Homo sapiens: one gene and its partners. The protein of the gene in region 4 interacts with the protein of the main gene of each other region in a pairwise test. Each region holds a gene or a part of one and is shown on either strand. Other genes may lie near its edges.

Region 1 (5,014 bases), on a different chromosome or scaffold from region 4:
ACTATAACAACAACCTAAAATGCTTCTAATACGGTAATGGCCCTATTTCTCTGCAAATAAGGATTGCTCATGATTCTTACACTGCCTTTCAATTAGGATTATACAGCTCCATTCCTCATTCAAGCTTCCCATACGTGCACCTAAGTATCATTTTACAATGGGATATACTTAGGTAAACTGAGACGGTCAGATGACTCAGCGAGAAGTCACCCGAAGAATTTTAGAACAAAGATTAATAACTCCAATATACCCTCTCAACCAAGAATTTGAAGAAACTAAAAGGTTAAACACAAAATTTCTGGAGCTTATGAAACTTCTGAGAGGTATAAGAGAAACACAGAAAGCAAAACTAAAAGTTAGGCTTGTTGTCTGCTTTTCATTTTGTTTTCAAACTGGGATTTCCAGCTGTCTTACTAAATTACATGCAGTGTTTCTATCTCAATTAATTCCCAACTGACAAAAAAATGTGGATAGTTTTCTTTTATAAGTTGCCCTTACAGTATGTAACTTGAGAGGGGTAATCCAATTCCTCTGGTCTCAGTAACTCCAAAGACAGAAAGTAACTCCAATAGATACTGCTATAATGGAATTGCAGCCACTAACTGAGCCCTAGTTCCTGTTCTAAACACTCTCTCCCATCAGAGGTTTGCCTAAAATTATACGGTCTCAATTTTCTTACTGAAAATTCACTGGGATCCCAAAATTAAAAATCAAACCTACACCAAAACAAAACCTTAAACACAATTAGCACAAGATGACACTGACTATCCCTCTATCTATCCCAGGGTTTCTCAACCTCAGCCCTCTTACCTTTTTGGGCCCAATATAATTCTTTGTTTTGAGGGGTCTATCCTGTGCACTGCAGCATGTTCAGCAGCATCTCTGGCCTCCACCCACTGCATGACAGTAGCAACCCTCCTCCAGCCCCTAGTTCCAAAAATCAAAAATGTCTACAGGCTGGGTGTGGTGGCTCACACCTACCATCCCAATACTTTGGGAGGCCGAAGCAGGACTGCTTGAGGCCAGGAGTTTGACACCAGCCTAGGCAACACAGTGAGACTCTGTCTCTACAAAAAATTAAAAAATTAGCCGGGTGTGGTGGTACAGCTAGTTGGGAGGCTGAGGTGGGAGGATTGCTTGAGCCCAGGAGGTGGAAGCCGCAGTGAGCCGTGATCATGCCACTGCACTCCAACCTGGGCAACAAAGTCAGACTCTGTCTCCAAAAAAAAGATAAAAAATTGTCTACAGACTTTGCCAAATGTTCCCTGGGAAACAAAACTACCTGAAATTGAAAACCACTGCTCTAGGCTATCTCATTTATTGCTCAGTAGGATGTGAAGAGATCCAACCTGGCCAACATGGTGAAACCCTCGTCTCTACTAAAAATACAAAAATTAGCCAGGCGTGGTGGCAGGCACCTGTAATCCCAGCTACTTGGGAGGCTGAGGCAGGAGAATCACTTGAAACTGTAAGGCAGAGGATGCAGTGAGCCGAGATCGTGCCACTGCACTCCAGCCTGGGTGAAAGAGGGAAACTCCGTTTAAAAAAAAAAAAAAGAGGCAACTAAACATAAAGAAATACAAAGTGTTAGCACATCTAGTTGGTACTTCCCCCGAAAATACAAAAAATTTCTTCTGCAGTGAGTTCAATTTTCAGATTTTTTTCTTCCTTATACTGAAAAAGTCCCACAAATTTCCCCAATATATACATTTATATTTATCAGTAGAATTACAAGGATAAACTAGCCTCTACCTATAAGAATACATATTTATTTCTAGATATTGCAGTGAATATATGTACTTCACTGTACATTCAAATTTCACATGGTAGCACCTACATTTTGTACCACTGTAGCCTTTTAAAGGCGTCAAAACACTGAAGTCATCACTTTTTAAATATAATTACTGGGTGTTCAACTCATATCAATCATTCAATTAAAAAATATTTAATTAGCAACTGCTATATAGCACCAGATAGACATCTCTCTGGGACCTTTCTAAGAATCATGCAACTTAGAAAGGTCAGCTGAGCTTAAACGGTCACAAAGTCTTTAAGAAATCTGCTTTTTAGCTACTTTTATTATGGGTGGTTTGAACATTTTCCTGTATTAGAGTTATTGCAAGTACAATACAATGATGAATGCCTTCTCTAGCACCTGGTAGAGCCAAACTAGATAACATTACTTATTGATAAGGAAAACATTTTATTAGATCAAAGAAGATGATAAAATAAGTAGAGGGAGAGAAGCCTACTACATAGTTTCTTCAGGTGGAGCCTGAAAGCGAGCAGTTCTTAACCTGATCTCTTCATCTGGATTTAGGAAGATACCCTGATCTCCATAAAATACTTAAGAACCACCCTAGTCTCATCAATACCAAAAGTAGGTTACTCTGCATATGATTTATCTCACCTGTTTAATGATGACTCTACCAGATTTAATCACATAAGGTAACATTCCCTGACCTTGATTTAATGGGGAAAGACGGATGGTAGGGTGTAGGAATGGAATAACACCTTTACACTCCATGACACAGCCCTCTGTGGTGTACTACCCAGTCATTCATCATCAATGTAGCACACTAACTCCATTAGTCTTGGCTTCACATTGTCTCTCAATAAGATAGGTAAGGTAAGAGTTTCTGCTATGGTTTTGAAAATAATAATCTGAAGTTACTTTAAGTATTTATTCTATAATCTGATGACCAAAAAATCTACAATGGCATTTTACCCAATCCTACAGAAACTTAAAATCCTGAGGCTCCAGACTATATAATCGAAATCTCTGATTTTAAAATCCAAGTTTAGTACTCACAAAATTTTACTAAAGTTATTTTCACTGTAAATAGGAAAACACTTTTAATAAGGAGAAAGAAATTCCTAAACCAATACTCACTTGGAATGGAGACTTTTTTGAAACCTAACAGAAAACAATGCCACTAAATATGTTTTCATTTTAAAATTCCCTTCATGATTTCTCCTTATTTCTTAATATCCTCTTTCCAAATGAACCTTTTGTCCTCTTTTTGAATGGTTTTTTTTTTTTTTGAGATGGAGTCTCGCTCTTTTTGCGAGTGCAATGGCACGATCTCAGCTCACTGCAAGCTCCGCCTCCTGGGTTTTCAAGCGATTCTCCTGCCTCAGCCTCCCGAGCCCAGCTCAAATCACTAAATTGCTTAGATTAGAGGCGCCCACCACCACGCCAGGCTAATTTTTGTATTTTTAGTAGAGACAGGGGTTTCACCATGTTGGCCAGGCTGGTTTTGAAGTCCTGACCTCAGGTGATCCGCCCACCTTGGCCTCCCAAAGTGCTAGGATTACAGGCACTAGTCACCATGCCCGGCCCTCTTTTGTCCTCTTATCTGAGTGGATCCAACCCAAAGACACACAAAGCTAAAATTGATCAGGATTAGCAGTAAGGAGTGTTATTCTGTCAAATTAAATGAATTCAGCCTACATGTGGCTTTAAAAAAAAAGGTGAAATAATAAAGTAATTAAATTTTAAAAAGAAGAGAAGAGTTATTAAACCTTGCAACCTAGTCCCGTTGAACACAATTATGGCTCTGAAGCAGACCTTCCCATTGAATGGGTGAAGAAACCTAGTGAGAGCTCATTAAAAGCTGATGTAAACTCAATACCCAGCCTCTGGTGTTCAGTGAGGACAGCACTCATAGATGATGGGTTCTTTCTTTCTTTTTCTTTTTCTTTTCTTTTCTTTTTTCTCTCCTCTCTCCCCTCTCTCTTCTCTCTCATCCAGACTGGGTCTCTGTTGCCCAGGCTGGAGTACAGTGGCACAACCATAGCTCACTGTAACCTCAAATATCCTGGGCTCAAGTAATTCTTCCACCTCAGCCTCCCAAGTAGCTAGGACTACAAGCACATGCCACCATACCCAGCTAATTTTTATTTTTTTTGTTGAGACAGGGTCTTGCTATGTTATCCAGGCTGGGAGAACATTTTAAACAAAGGGAGACAGAGGTCTAAAAATAGATAATGCATAGGAGAATGGTGAGGTAAATGCTATGGCCAAGGCACAGGGCGTGTGGAGGAATGAGTTGGGTTTTTGAAGTTGATTAGATTAAATCATGGAGTCTTTTTCTTTTTTGAGATAAGCTCTTGCTCTGTCACCCAGACTGGAGTGTAATGGCACAATCACAGCTCACTGCAGCCTCGACCTCCCGGGCTTGAGCAATCTTCCCCGACTCAGCCTCCTGAGTAGCTAGGACCACAGACACACACCACCACCCCTGGCTAATTTTTTTAATTTTTGTAGAGATAGGGTCTCACTTTGTTGCCCAGGCTAGTGCCAAACTCCTGGGCTCAAGCAATCCTCTCCTGCCTTGGGTTCCCAAAGTGTTGGTATAACAGGTGTGAGCCACAGCATGCCCCAGTGAGGGATGGTTCTTGGTATCCAACTATCACAAGAGTCAGTACCCTCTTTGTTTACTTTGTTTTTATAAAATTTATCCATATCTGATTTTAACTGGGGTATTAAGCCTTTTTATATATTGACTATAAATGGTTTTTAGGTTTTAGGTCCTTCATTTTGCTCTTTGTTTTCTACACATATTTTTTTTGATTTTAGGTTTGGGGGCACATATGTACATTTGTTACACGGACAAACTGTGTCACTGGAATTTGGTGTACTGATTATTTCGTCACCCAGCAACTGACCATAGTACAAGATAGGCAGTTTTTTGACCCTCATCCTCCTCTTACCCTCACCACCTCAAGTAAGCCCTCGTGTCCATGTTTATGCCCATGTGTACTCAATGTTTAGCTCCCACTTTTAAGTGAGAACACGTGGTACTTGGCTTTCTGTTCCTGCTTTAATTCACTTAGGATAATGACCTCCAGCTGCATCCATGTTGCTGCAAAGGACATGATTTCGGTTTTGTTTTTTTTAAATAGCTGTATAGTATCCCATGATGTATATGTACCATATTTTCTTTATTAAGTCCACCACTGATGGGCATCTAGGTTGATTCCATGTCTTTGCTCTTGTGAACAGTGCCAC
Region 2 (5,014 bases), on a different chromosome or scaffold from region 4:
CAGCCTGGGCAAGAGAGAAAAGACTCTGTCTCCAAAAAAGAAAAGAAAAGAAAAGAAAATACTGAGTAAAGACCACCTTAGCTGAAGGATAGCATAGCATGAAGGATAGCATCTACGATGACAAACATCTTCCAACCCTATGATTAGCCTAGTAAACGTTGCCTAGGTTCTGGAAATTTTCCCATTATTACCTTTTTTTTGAAGTAGAGTCTCCCTCTGTCACCCAGGCTAGAGTGCAGTGACACTATCTCAGCTCACTGCAACCTCCAATTCCCAGGTTCAAGCAATTCTCCTGCCTCAAGTCTCCCAAGTAGCTGGGATTACAGGCACAGGCCACCACGCCCAGCTAGTGTTTCACCATATTGGCCAGGCTGGTCTCAAACTCCTGACCTCAAGTGATCTGCCTGGCACAGTCCCCAAAGTGCTGGGATTACAGGTGTGAGCCACCGTGACTGGTCCCCTATTATTAGTTTCTTAAACAATTTATCTTCCCTCATTAACCCACCTCTGTAGTAATCTATCACTACACGTAACACATAGAGAAACACTGCTATTAAATTTCAACTACATCAGCAGTTCTCAAACTTTAGCTTGCATCACCATCACCTAGAAGGCTTGTTAAAACAGACAGCCAGACCCCATCCCCAGAGTTTGATTCATAGGACTACTGCCATAGCAATTCAACAAGTCAGTGTAATTTAAACTTACAGCTCAAGGAGATCAGCTGGGAAAATATAAAAGTCCAAAAGAAATAAATCTAAACTATATCAAACACTTTAATAACTTCAAAACACATGTGCCTGCACACATCATGCACAGGCTTGTACACCCTCTTCCTCCTCTCCCAATTAATGAACATAACCACAATATGCACACCTGAATTCAATTTCTTGGAAAAAATGAACATCTCCAATTAACTGAGGTTTTTAAAATGATGTTAAACGAATAAAACACTTAATGTAAAAAAGGACCAACCTAGTATTTCAACTCCCTCATTTTCAGTCCCAGATTAAAAACAAAACAAGGCCGGGCAAGGTGGCTCACTGTGATCCCAGAACTTTGGGAGGCCGAGGCGGGCAGATCACCTGAGGTCGGGAGTTTGAGACCAGCCTGACCAACATGGAGAAACCCCCATCTCTACTAAAAATACAAAATTAGCCAGGCGTGGTGGCATACGCCTGTAATCCTAGCTACTCAGGAGGCTGAGGCAGGAGAATCGCTTGAACCTGGGAGGCAGAGGTTGCAGTGAGCTGAGATCGCGTCATTGCACTCCAGCCTGGGCAACAAGAGAGAAACTCCATCTCAACAACAACAACAAAAAGTGTGGCTGGGCACCGTGGCTCATGCCTATAATCCCAACACTCTGGGAGGCCAAGGTAGGTCGATCATTTGAGGTCAGGAGTTCGAGACCAGCCTGGCCAACATGGTGAAACCTCATCTCTAATAAAATACAAAAAATAGCTGGGTGTGGTGGCGCGTGCCTGTAATCCCAGTTACTTGAGAGGCTGAAGCAGGAGAATCGCTTGAACCCTGGAAGTGGAGGTTGCAGTGAGCCAAGATCAGGCCACTGCACTCCAGCCTGGGTGACACAGTGAGACATGTATAAAAAAAAAAAAAAAAAATTTGAAGGTTCTGAGATATTAACTAGACAGAGTAAAAACCAGGGCTATAACTGACTCCCCAATCAGTAAACAATATGCTAGAATAGTACACTGTTGACCGGGCACGGTGGCTCATGCCTGTAATCCCAGCACTTTGGCAGGCCGAGGTGGGCGGATCACGAGGTCAGGAGATCCAGATCATCCTGGCTAACATGGTGAAACCCCATCTCTACTAAAAAATACAAAAAAATTAGCCAGGCATGGTAGCGGCTGCCTGTAGTCCCAGCTACTCGGGAGGCTGAGGCAGAAGAATGGCGTGAACCCAGGAGGCGGAGCTTGCGGTGAGCCGAGATCGCACCACCGCACTCCAGCCTGGGCAACAAAGCGAGACTCCGTCTCAAACGAAAAAAAAAAAAAGAATAGTACACTGTCTTCCTTAGTTTAGGCTTGCAACCTCAACTTGAGGTTCTTTAATTAAATCTCTTAATTAAATAAGTGAAATACAGCTTTCGAACCAACAGCCAACAGAAAATTTCTTCAGTAAGGCTTAGATATTTTTTTCTTTAAAATGAGTTATTTGGCTGGGCACGGTGGCTCACGCCTGTAATCCCAGCACTTTGGGAGGCCAAGGCAGGCGGATCACGAGGTCAAGAGGTTGAGACCATCTGACCAACATGGTGAAACCCAGTCTCTACTAAAAATACAAAAATTAGTTGGGTGTGGTGGCGCGCACCTGTAGTCCCAGCTTCTCAGGAGGCTGAGGCAGGAGAATCGCTTGAACCCAGGAGGCAGAGGTTGCACTGAGCCAAGATCACGCCACCACTGCTCTCCAGCCTGGCAACAGAGCAAGACTCCGTCTCCAAAAAAAAAAAAAGTTATTTAGCATAACAGATCTTATAAAAGCAAGATACCTATCCACTGTTTTTTATACCTCCTCTGACCACTCACATTCAATAGTCCCAGGTCCATATTCCTCTCGGCACACACTCTAAATATGGTACAGGTTGAGTATTCCTTATCCAAAATACTTGAGACCAGAAGTTTTTCAGATTTGGAATATTTAATTATACTTACAATCAACATCCCTAATCTGAAAATCCGAAATCCAAAATGCTGCAGTGAGCATTTCCTTTGAGCATCACAACGGTGCTCAAAAAGTTTTGGATTTCCAGGCCTACCATTTTGAGAGGCTGAGGTTCAAGGAGCGCTTGAGGCCAGGAGTTTGAGACTGGCCTGGGCAACAGAGCAAGACCCTGTGTCTCTACAAAAAAGAAAAAAAATTAGCTAGGAGTGGTGCCACACACCTATAGTCCTAGCTACTCAGGAGGCTGAGGCGGGAGAATCACTTTAGCTCAGGAAGTTGAGGTTGCAGTGAGCTATGATCTTGCCATTGCACTTCAGTCTGGGCAACAACACAAAGTGATTTCAGAGCATTTCTGATTTTTTGATTAGGTATACCCAATCTGTGCCCCTAAGAGCTGCTGCTCTTCTCACTCTACTCACCCTGCCTGAGTCAAAATCGTGACAGTGGATTAACTATCACTATTCCAGTGGTTTGGTTATCACTAGAAGGCTAAAATACAGAGATGCTAAGGTTTCACCTCAGACTTCATTAATGAGTAAGAATCTCTGGAAGTGGAGTTCAAGGACCTCCATATTCCCTATCCCTATATGCTCCTTAGGCAAGGAGCATATCCTCTGCTTAACATAATGCCTGGCATACTTAGAAAGCACAATCAACATTTGCTGAACACTGTTGTGGAAAAACAAAATGGCAAGTTTAAATACTCCCAACTGCAGAATTGAACAGGGTTCTTTTAATAAATTACCTAGCTACTTATATAGTTACATTAGAAAACTACTTTTTAGGCTGGGCGCGGTGGCTCAAGACTGTAATCCCAGCACTTTGGGAGGCCCAGCTGTGTGGATCACCTGGGTTCAGGAGTTCAAGACCAGCCTGGCCAACATGGTGAAACCCCCTCTCTACTAAAAAATACAAAAAGTAGCTGGGTGTGGTGGTGCACACCTGTAATCCCAGCTACTCGGGAGGCTCAGGCAGGAGAATTGCTTGAACCCAAGAGGCGGAGGTTGCAGTGAGCTGAGATCACGCCACTGCACTCCAACCTGGGCAGCAGAATGAAACTCTGTCTCAAAATAAACAAATAACAAAAAACACCCTGGCCAGGCATGGTGGCTCACACCTGTAATCCCAGCACTTTGGGAGGCCGAGAAGGGCAGATCACTTGAGGCCAGGAGTTCAGTACCAGCATGATGAACATGGGGAAACCCTGTAACACAAGAATTAGCTGGGCCTGGTGGCAGGTGCCTGTAATCCCAGATACTGGGGTAGGGGGGGAAGCTGAGGCAAGGGGAATCTCTTGAACCTGGGAGGGAGAGGTTGCAGTAAGCTGAGATCACGCGACTGCACTACAGCCTGGGTGACAGAGTGAGGCTGTCTCCAAACAAAACAAAATAAAAAACTCTGATTTTTTTTTTCCTTAAAAGCTGAAAAGGTAAGCTAGGTAGCCACAAAGCATTTAAACAAAAGACCAAATTAAATAAAGTTTAATTGTTTAATTTGGTCTTTTATTTAAATGTTAATTGGGAAATTATAGAAAGCCAGAAAACCAAGTTTTCTGAAAGAAAATAATGTTGACTTATTTGAAGACCAAACCTAACCTGCAAATATCCACAAATAACAGTATTTATGTTGTTGCCCAGAACTCCTCTCCCAGAAAAAGTAATCAAATTCCCAAGGAAATATTAAATTAATTTGGTTATCTTTTTACATTTCAAACTTTTTCACCTGCAAATGTATCTTACCTGATTTCACACTGAAAATTAGAACTGAGAACAGGGAATTTAAATGTTTAAGAGTTAACAGTAAGCTCTCTAATGCAAACTAAGTAAAATTCAGTGTTTATCAAACCAACATTAAAAACCTAGATAACTGCTATTTCCAACCTCTATTAATAGAAAGAAGTCTTACAAACCAGTAAGAGATAAATATCCCAAAGAGGGGCAATGGGCAAAAGAGAATAAAATGAGCAAAAAGCGAGGGGCAATTTAAAAAAGAAATACCAAGCCCAATAAACATAAATTCAATCTCACCAGGTTTTTTTTGCCCATCAAACACTGGTTGGGAAAACTAGCATAACTTTTCTGAAAGCAATGTGGTAGTATGTATCAAATGCATTGAAAATGAGCAAATTCTTTTGACTCAGCAATTCACTTTATCCCAAGAAAATAAGAACACTCAAAGACTGACCTATGAGGATATTTTCAATATTTATAAAAGCCAGAAACTAGAAAATAAAAAGGAAGGCAAATAACAGATTGATTAAATAAATTAGTTCAGATCTATAATCATATAAGTTCTCGAAAAATTTACTTGACAGAAGGTTGTTCAGAGT
Region 3 (5,014 bases), on a different chromosome or scaffold from region 4:
CTGGACATAAAAAAGAGTGAGCCATGGGAAAAGTGAAGAGGAGAGTCTTCCCAAGCTTCGTCACAAGTTTAAAAATAGGTGAGCCTGGCCAGGCACGGGGCCTCACACCTATAATCCCCGCACTTTGGGAGGCTGAGGTGGGAGGATCACAAGGTCAGGAGGCTCACTGCAACCTCCACCTTCCAGCTCAAGCGATCCTCCCGCCTCAGCCTCCTGAGTAGCTGGGATTATAGGCGAGCACCACCATGCCTGGCTAATTTTTTATTTTTAGTAGAGATGCGGTTTCACCATGTTGCCCATGCTGGTCTTGAACTTCTGGGCACAAGAGATCCACCCACCTCAGCTTCCCAAAGTGCTGGGACTACAGGCATGAGCCACCGCACCTGGCCCCCACTCCATTCTTTAGCCTCCATATTACTCTATTAAAACGATTATCCACTGCACAACTACTATAAGCACATTAATAAAGGCCTTAATTCTATTTTGACAAAAGGCAATGGTTGCACCATAGCTTAATATCCACTAGTAGTCATTATTCCTGAAGACTAGTAGTCTTCAGCCCTTAGGAGCAACATTCTACACATAAGTGATTCACAACCAGGGTATCTAACCATGATAATTTTCTATGTCTGCATATGTGTATCACTGTATGTATGTGGGAGGGGGACAAGGAAAGGGGATATAGTCACAGCAAGAGATCCCTATTGAAAGACATTTTGCTGACCAAGAAGTTTTCAATCTAACTCAGAATCCCAACAGTAGTACTGCTTTGTGGAGATAATTACTGAACTTTGATCTACTTCATTGTTCATTCACTTGACATGAATCATTAAATAAACTTTGACATCACCCCAATTCCAACATGACAGATAACAGTAAAGCTTCTGTGTTAAATGTTATGGTATATACCTGCATTTAACATGGCTTAAGGTAGAAAAAAGATAAAACTGAGTTGCAACTGAGAAACCCTGAATAGTGAATAATAAAAAATAACGAAAAACTGACATGACTACTTCTGGAATTTTCCCCCAAACTCCATCAATTTCTATGACTAAAAAAGTCTTACTTTCACATGACATCAACATGTGGATTAAATTCATAGTTTTATATAACAGTGATAGCAGGAGAAAGAACCATGTAGCAGCAAGCAAATATCAGACTTCCCTCTTATAAACTGTGTGATTTTTTTTTTTTTTGAGATGGAGTCTTGCTCTGTCTCCCAGGCTGGAGTACAGTGGCACAGTCTCCGCTCATTGCAACCTCCACCTCCCAGGTTCAAGCCGATTCTCCTAACTCAGCCTCCCAAGTAGCCAGGATTACAGGTGCCCGCCACCACACCCGGCTGATTTTTGTATTTTTAGTAGAGACAGGGTTTCACCATGTTGGCCAGGCTGGTCTCGAACTCCTGACCTCAGGTGATCCACCCACCTCAGCCTCCCAAAGTGCTGGGATTACAGGCATCAGCCACACTGCCAGGCCAACTGTGTGATTTTTAAAGTAAGTTACTTGATCTCCCTTTGTCTTTAGTTTTCTCATCTGTAAAACACAGATAATACTGTGTTTTCAGAGTTAAATAAAATTATATAATAAAATGCTTAGCATATAATAGCGATTTTAAAATACGTTTCCATCCAATTATTTTTCCTTTTAAAAAATGTTAACATCACCCTGCCTTGACCATTGTTGAAACAAGCATCAGTATGTTGCTACCATTAACTGTGCACAGTGGCATGCATCTGTACTCCCACCTACTCTGGAGGCTGAGGCAGAAGGATCCTTTGAGCCTATCAGGTCAAGGCTATACTGCATTACGATTGTCTCTGCGAATAGCCATTGTATCCCAGCCTGGACAACACAGCAAGACCTCATAAAAAACAAAACAAAACAAAAAAAAAAAGCCACCTTAGTCTGGGCGCAGTGGCTTACATCTATAATCCCAGCACTTTGGGAGGCCGAGGTGGGTGGATCACTTGAGGTCAGCAATTCGAGACCAGCCTGGCCAACGTGGTGAAACACTGTCTCTACCAAAAATACAAAAATTAGCCACGCGTGCTGACAGGCACCTGTAATCCCAGCTACTTGGGAGGATGAGACAAGAGAATCACTTGAACCTGGGAGGCAGAGGTTGCAGTGAGCTGAGATCATGCCATTGCACTCCAGCCTGGGCAACAGAGTGAGACACCGTCTCAAGAAAAAAAAAAAAAAGCCAACTTATTATCAATAAGGACATGAAAAGATACTCAATATCACTAGTCAACCTACTAGAATGGCTATAACTGGAAAAAAGGAAAACAACAAGTGGTGGCAAGGGTGTAGAAAAAGTGGAACCCTGATACTTTGCTGCTAAGGGAATGTAAAATGGTACAGCCACTTTGGAAAACACTTTAGTGTTTCTTCAAAAAATTAAATATGGAATTACAACAACCCAGCAATTCCACTCCTAGATATATACCCAAAAGAACTGAAAATAGGAGTACACTAATACTCATAGCAGCATTGTTTATAATAGCCAAAAGGTGAAAACAAATGCAGTATCCATCAATGAATTAATATACAAAATGTGGTACATTAAATATGATTCAGCCATAAAAATGATACATTCTACAACATGTATGAACCTTGAAAACATTACGCTAAGTGACATAAGTCAGACACAAAAGGCTAAATATTACACGATTCCAATCACACGAAAGATCTAGAATAGGTAAATTCACAGAGACAAAAAGTAGAGGCTGGGCACAGGGGCTCACGCCTGTAATCCCAACACTTTGGGAGGCCAAGGCAGGTGGATCAAGACCATCCTGGCCAACATGGTGAAACCCTGTCTCTATTAAAAATACAAAAATTAGCTGGGCGTGGTGGTACATGCCTGTAGTCCCAGCTACTCGGGAGGCTGAGGCAGAATTGCTTGAACCTGGGAGGCAGAGGTTGCAGTGAGCTGAGATCGTGCCACTACATTCCAGCCTCCATCTCAAAAAAAAAAAAAAAAAAAGTAGATTAGTGGTTACCAGGGGCTGGGTTGAGAAGAGAATGAACAGTCACTGCTTAACAGCTACAGAGTTTGTTTGGGATGGTAAAAAATACAAAAAATACAAAAATACAAAAATTAGCTGGGCATAGTGGTGCGTGCCTGTAATCCCAGCTACTCAGGAGGATGAGGCACGAGAATCGCTTGAACCCAGGAGGAGGAAGTTGCAGTGAGCTGAGATCGCGCCACTGCACTCCAGCCTGGGCGACAGAGCGAGACTGCATTTCAAAAAAAAAAAAGGCATTAGAAAGTCATCGTCTTGATCGAAATCTTCATATTGTTTCCCATTTTCAACAAACTTAATTCTAGAACCTTGCAGGTTTGACCATTAGCAAAAATTAGTAGTTTACATAAATTTAAACATAGGGGAAACTAGGTGCAGGGTTTAAGGGATTTCTCTGTACTACAATTACAAATTTTCTGTAAATTGGTAACTTCATGATTTTTCTATAAACTTTCTAAAAAAGTTTATTAATAAAAAAGAGACATGTTATTGAATCTCAAAAGTGTTATGCTAAATGAAAGAAGCCAGTCTCAAAAGGCTATATACACTGTGTGATGCCAATTTATATGGCATTTTGGGAAAGGCCAAACTATAGGGATAAAAAACAAATGAGCTGTTGCCAGGGAGTGAGGGGTGGGCTGAAGGGATTTACTTCAAAAGGGCATAATTATGGAAATTTTTGGAGTGATGGAAATATTCTATATCTTGTATCTTAATTGTGGTGGTGGCAGTTACACAACTGTCACTGTTTTTTGTAATTCATCTGTTTTAGCAGAACTATACAGAACTTTACACCTAAAACAGATGAATTTTACTAAGTGTAAATTATACCTTAATAAGTATGACTTTTCAAAAAGAATCCTTAACAATGGTAGTATCATGTCATACATTTCAATACACACAGAATTCTAGCCTGATAAATGTCATTATGAGATCTAGTCAGATGAAACTAGGCGATTCAAGCCGGGCACGGTGGCTCATGCCTGTAATCCCAGCACTTTAGGAGGCAGATGTGGGCGGATCACTTCAGGTCAGGAGTTCAAGACCAGCCTGGCCAACATGGTGAAATCCCGTCTCTACTAAAAACCCAAAAATTAGCCAGATGTGGTGGCAGACGCCTGTAATCCCAGCTACTCAGGAAGCTGAGACAGGAAAATCGCTTGAACCTGTGAGGCGGAGGTTGCAGTGAGCCAAGATCGTGCCACTGCACTCCAGCCTGGGTTACAGAGCGATATTCTATCTAAAAAATAAAAATAAAAAATAAGCCTTGAAAACCCCTCCCTAGGCCTGGTGTGGTGGCTCATGCCTGTCATCCCAGCACTTCAGGAGGCCGAGGCAGGCAGATCATGAGGTCAAAAGATTGAGACCATCCTGGCCAACATGGTGAAACCCCATCTCTACTAAAAATACAAAAATTAGCCGGGCGTGGTGACGTGTGCCTGTAATCCCAGCTACTTGAGAAGCTGAGGCAGGAGAATCACTTGAGCCTGGGAGGCAGAGGTTGCAGTGAGCCAAGATCGCACCACTGCACTACAGCCTGGTGAAAGAACGTGACTCCGTCTCAAAAAAAAAAAAAAAAAAGAAAAAAGAAAAAAAAAAAGAAAAGCTTTCCCTAAACCTACGTTTTATGTTCCCTTAGCTAAGTTTTCCCTTAAGTTGTTCTCTGTGCATTGAAATAACACTATCCTTAACACCTCATCATCTTCTTCTTCCTATAGTAAGGATTTACAATCTAAACTCTTTACTCAAAAATCTTGTCTAATTAACTCTTATCTATTTTCCATTTGACTATATTATCCCTTACATCTTTTCTTTCCCGTAACAAATTTTTTTAAATAACTGAAGTACTTTTTGCTACATGGATTGTAGTTAGTTGGTCTCTCCTAGTTGGAATATAAACTTCCCAAAGGCAGGAAGTAACTATTTCTTTATACACTCCAAAAATCTGGTTTGTACTATGTATCTAAACACTCAAATGCCAT
Region 4 (5,014 bases):
CACATACACACATATTTCCACATATAAACATATGCATACGTACATATGTATACCTACACACACATATACGGTGTAGCTTTTAGCAAAACCTTTAAGTCGCACACTCGTGTGTCATTGTTCTGATGCTCATTTGTTTGCTTACATGGGTCATATGGGCCACTGAGTACTACCAGTCTGCAACACGTAGACTAAGGAGAGAGATTGGCCAGAAAATATGGGGGAATTGAAGCACCTTAGCTCTTGTTTAATAAGCAACAACTATAATAAGCCAAAGGTATTAAACAAACAGATGATCCCAGTTGAAGAGAAATACAAAATTAGCCTTCATCAGGGAATTGGATAAAAATTGTGCCCTGACTTAAGGAACATTAGCTCAGTGAGTGACAAAATCAACTGGTGAACCCTGAGGTATGGCTTTTTGAGAGTCCACTTCTGCCGGTTTTCTTTAGATATTTGTTTTGGGTTTCATTTTGGTGGGGAGGAAGAATCTCCAAGGAAAGAGAGAACTGTTCCAAGCTACCAGCTCTGGGTTGTGTGGGATGTGGAAATGGCCTGCTTTCCATGGCTTCTGCATTTTTGGTAGCTGAGTCACCCCCAAACTTTCTGAGCCAGGACTTAGCTTGGGGAAAGCCCCACTCAAGGAGCCAGGACTGTACCAACAGAAGCGTTTGGAATGGCCTTTGCTATTTTGAGATGTGTGTTTAGTGGAGAGAAGTCCTATTTACACTCTGGCTGGGCCAGCTCCTTCAGTGTCCTCGTCGTGTGCATGGGGCAGCACAGCCAATTGCTCTTGAAATAGAATTAGTGGCCACAAATTAAGCAGTGTGCTGTGCTGGTGGGAGGCTGTGGGAGGGAGGAGGCTGGGAATTGCTATCCCTGGGGAAATCAGCCTCAGAAGAGAAGCTCACTGCTCTCCTGGAAGGAATGTTTCTCGACAGTATTCTGATGCTTGCAAAAAGAAATACTATCATACCACGTTGTTCTGTGACAGAAAGCTTCTAAGATAAGTTTTTGGAATTAAGAAGTACACATTATTGCATGAGGGTCATAATAATAGCCAGCATTTATTTGGGCACTTTCCACGAGCCAAACACCATCTAAGTCCTTTACATGCATCCTCTCCTGAGAATTGTCTTATGGAGGCAGCGTTATTATTATTTTAAAGATTTTCTACATTGTATTCTGGTGATGTTTGTTGAAGTACTTAGTGGTGCCATTGTTTCCTTGCCCCAGAAAGTCCTCTTTGCCCTGTGTGCCTTGAATGCCCTGACCACCACCGTCTGCTTGGTGGCCGCTGCCCTCCGCTACCTCCAGATATTCGCAACCAGGAGATCCTGCATCGTAAGTCTATGCAAGGGCATCATGGCCACGTTTCCGCTGAGCCAGCCCATGGACCCCTTCGTGTCATCCACTGCCTCTCTCCCCGTGCCTTTGTAATGAAGGCTGTTGACTAACTGAGCTGCTGTTTAATCAGGATGAATCCCAGATTTCTGCTGAAGAAGCGGAGGATCATGGACGCATCCCCGACCCTGATGATTTTGTGCCGCCTGTGCCTCCCCCTTCCTATTTTGCCACGTTTTACTCGTGCACACCCCGGATGAACCGCAGGTATCGTTCCTGAGTTCCCCTGCAGTCTGAGTGGGATGCTGTGGGTTCTGAAGACTGAAGTGTCTCCAGAACTCACCACATGAGATCTCACTTTTCTTTGAAAAAGAAAAAGAAAAATTTTTCCTGACTTGAGGAACGTTAGCCCAATGAGTGACAAAATCAGCTAGTGAACCCTGTGGTATGGCTTTTAGAGAGTCCACCTCTGCCAGCCTTCTTTAGAAAAATGAAAAACAATTATGCTGTTTTTCAGGGGTTTCTATTCTCTCTGTCTCTCTCTCTCTGTTTTCTGTCTTACTTTCTCTTTTTGTCTGATAAAACAGATGAATCCAAAGAAAAGTTAAACTTTGGCCTGAAGATAGACATTTTCAATTTCAATTAGCTTTCTAAGGGAAACTGACACCCAGGGAGATAACAGCTGTAATTTGACATGATTGAGAGTCGCTGTTGCCTTGGAAACACTCCCAGTTAGGCCAAATCGATGTTTCATTGTAATACCATCAGCAGGTCTCAACAATCAAGAAATTCTTCCTAGCCATTAAAAAGAGATTAATTATTAATTGTCTCTCCCTGGTCTAGAAAAAATAGATACCATACTTATTTTCCTTTTCAAATTTCAAACTTAAAATTTTGACCTTCTTAAATATCAAGGATTTTTATTGGTACAGTGAAATGCCGCATACATCTGTCTGATTGTTAGCAACTTCTAGAATCAAACCTTTTTTTAAAGAATGACTTCATTTAGGCGCGGCGTGGTGGCTCACACCTGTAATCCCAGCACTTTGGGAGGCTGAGGCGGGCAGATCATGAGGTCAGGAGATCAAGACCATCCTGGCTAACCCCCGTCTCTACTAAAAATACAAAAAAATTAGCCGGGCATGGTAGTGGGCACCTGTAGTCCCAGCTACTTGGGAGGCTGAGGCAGGAGAATGGCATGAACCTGGGAGGTGGAGCTTGCAGTGAGCTGAGATCGCACCACTGCACTCCAGCCTGGGTGAGAGCGAGACTTTGTCTCAAAAAAAAAAAAAAGAATGACTTCATTCGTTTATTCATTCAACAAACGTGGAATCCTCTGTGCTGGGTTATTGGAATTCAAAATGAGCTAGACCTGCTTCCTCCTCTACCATTAAGGAGCTCACAGTCTAGGTCATTAAAATGTGTGTTGGAAGGATCACGGTAATATTCAAAAGAGGGACTTTGGGTGCACAGAGAAGGTACACCTAACCCAGAGTGGCAAGGCAGTCAGAGATGGCTTCCTGGATGAAGTGAACTTAAGCTGAGTTTAAAGGATAAGCAAACATCTGTTGAACTTTTTGAAAGAGAATCTCTTAATTCCACAGAAATACTAGTGTCTTTAGCTTCATATTCAGAGGGCCAGAAATTTCTATTTTTTAATCCCTGTAGTACATGTAGAGACTTATCAAACTAACTTGGTGCTGAGCTTGAGGTTTTTAGAGAAGTATTTTCTAATGTCCAGGGTGATGGTATGTGACTTTGAGATAGGTCACCAGTGGGGCTGCCACCCAGACACTGTTAGTGTTCTTTTCAGTGGCTTAGCTGCTGACTCGTCCCTCAGTTATACCTGAACCCTACGTCTATACCCTCCCCAGCTCACTTGCCCAGGCAGGGGCAGAGATGACTGCAAAGCTGGAGGGGATGTCAGCTGGGTGACAGGTGGCCTGGGCTAGGCCTGTGGGACAGCTTGGCCTCTCTGGTGTTCAGGGAGTGGCCTCTACTGGAATTTCAAAGCCTCAGGGGCTGGGATGGCTTCCTTAATCTTTCAGGAAATGAGCCAAGAATGACAGAGGCTGAAGAGATATGGCAGCAAAACACATGTTCTTTCTGTACCTGAGGACACATTTGCAAAAATCTTAGCGCCGTCTCAGGCTGTCTGTAGAGGGTACATTGGAGGACAGTAAAAAATGACTGATATTTCATGGTGGGGATGAGAAATACCCTCTCCAATAAGAAGAATTCTTTGACACTGAGGTTGCGGATGAGCACTCTGTTGACCTAGGAGGAGGCAGCAGACAGATTTAGTTTCTGCAGTGGCAGAAAGGGAAAGTGACTCATGTGGGTTTAGGAGCCGAGCCATCCAGCAGTGTGCTCTGAGCACTCCCGACCTTCCTGTCTCCTCGCTTTCCTTTCTCTTCTCTGCTTCACCATAATAATGCTCATCACTGCAGATATTTCCACTCTTTAAGATCTAGGTGCATCCTCGGATTTGTCTCTCTGAGTCCTGAGACAGCCTCTGGCCAAATCCAGGTTGGAAGAAAACAGACAAGCTTCTCATCAAGGGCTTTATCCTTCAAAACTTTCTAGAAAGAAGGCCGAAGGAGGGAGTTAAAGCAAAACAGTCTTGTGAGAAAGAAGACATTGCCCAGTCTAAAATACGTGCCTAGAGCCCTATAATCATATTGCCAATGGGCAAACACCTTTATTTTTGGAAATTTTACCAATATCAGAGTGCAGTCCACTTTCCTTTTCAAAAGGGCTGAATTTATTCACATTTAGATACATGTCCTATCAAAAATATTTCACAATGTGACCAACTTTTCTAGATTCACGGTATAAATCAACTTTATAGACACTCATGGTTTAACCTCAGTTGGTAATTTTCTTTCTTTTAAGCAGGCAGGCAAGAATATTCATGATTGTTACTATTTTATGACCAGTTTTATCCAGAGTTTTCACACAACAGAGGCTCCCCATTTCCTGTAAGGTATTATGACCTCTCAGAAGAGGTTTGTTTAACTTCTATAAATACAACCACTTCATGCGTTGGCATCTCCTTGAGAAAAGGCTTCTCGAGTTACTGTCATAAACAGAAGTCTGATTGCAGTTGAGGTTTCTGTCCAAAGATGGGTTCGCTACTTTGTGAATTGATTTGTAATACAGGAGGGGGCCGTGCACCCCACCCCACCTCCGCTACTCCAGGGTGTCTCTGTTCTCAGAAGTTGGCTTGAGCCAGGGATCAAGGAGTCTCCAACCTATTTCTTGAACATGGATCTGGTTTTTACTCTGGGGATGTAGCCTATTAAAGAAAACCGAAGACTGAGGGGGTCTTGGGCATTGACGTGGTTGACATGGGCATTTCTTAAAGCAGAGCCCCCCCAAACCCCACTCATTTCCTTTCCTAAGAATTTCCAAACCCAAACTCAAGTGGAGCCGGGCGATGCTTGGGGTTGAGTCAGTGCTCAGCTGTAGAGGGTTGGGGGAGGGCCCTTCCCTCTCTCCCCCTCTGCAGGCAGCAACCCTGTACCCAGTCACAGGGTACAGTTTTCCAGTACAGGAGGAGGAGGATTCTCTGGTCAATGGTGTATCTGCTGCTGCATTCCACCTGAGTGAGTCTTCAGGGCCTATTTGTAGCCTGAAAGCAGAACATGCTTTGAATTTCCATCTTCAGTGC

Evidence for each region. The genes of interacting proteins can lie anywhere in the genome.
Region 1: the proteins of ENTREP1 (region 4) and RNF115 interact in a two-hybrid assay, tested with the Homo sapiens proteins (one large-scale study listed by IntAct).
Region 2: the proteins of ENTREP1 (region 4) and ARIH1 interact in a two-hybrid assay, tested with the Homo sapiens proteins (one large-scale study listed by IntAct).
Region 3: the proteins of ENTREP1 (region 4) and PIK3C2A interact in a two-hybrid assay, tested with the Homo sapiens proteins (one large-scale study listed by IntAct).

The regions. Positions count from the first base shown.
Region 1 is NC_000001.11:145,813,040-145,818,053, forward strand, and holds part of RNF115 (E3 ubiquitin-protein ligase RNF115), read right to left. Parts: intron 1-5,014. UniProt on the Homo sapiens protein: E3 ubiquitin-protein ligase that catalyzes the 'Lys-48'- and/or 'Lys-63'-linked polyubiquitination of various substrates and thereby plays a role in a number of signaling pathways including autophagy, innate immunity, cell proliferation and cell death.
Region 2 is NC_000015.10:72,476,872-72,481,885, reverse strand, and holds part of ARIH1 (E3 ubiquitin-protein ligase ARIH1), read right to left. Parts: intron 1-5,014. UniProt on the Homo sapiens protein: E3 ubiquitin-protein ligase, which catalyzes ubiquitination of target proteins together with ubiquitin-conjugating enzyme E2 UBE2L3.
Region 3 is NC_000011.10:17,196,931-17,201,944, forward strand, and holds part of PIK3C2A (phosphatidylinositol 4-phosphate 3-kinase C2 domain-containing subunit alpha), read right to left. Parts: intron 1-5,014.
Region 4 is NC_000009.12:69,376,137-69,381,150, forward strand, and holds part of ENTREP1 (endosomal transmembrane epsin interactor 1), read left to right. Parts: intron 1-1,233; coding exon 1,234-1,341; intron 1,342-1,474; coding exon 1,475-1,608; intron 1,609-5,014. UniProt on the Homo sapiens protein: Functions as an activator of the E3 ubiquitin protein ligase ITCH in the ubiquitination of the CXCL12-activated CXCR4 receptor. Thereby, triggers CXCR4 endocytosis and desensitization, negatively regulating the CXCL12/CXCR4 signaling pathway.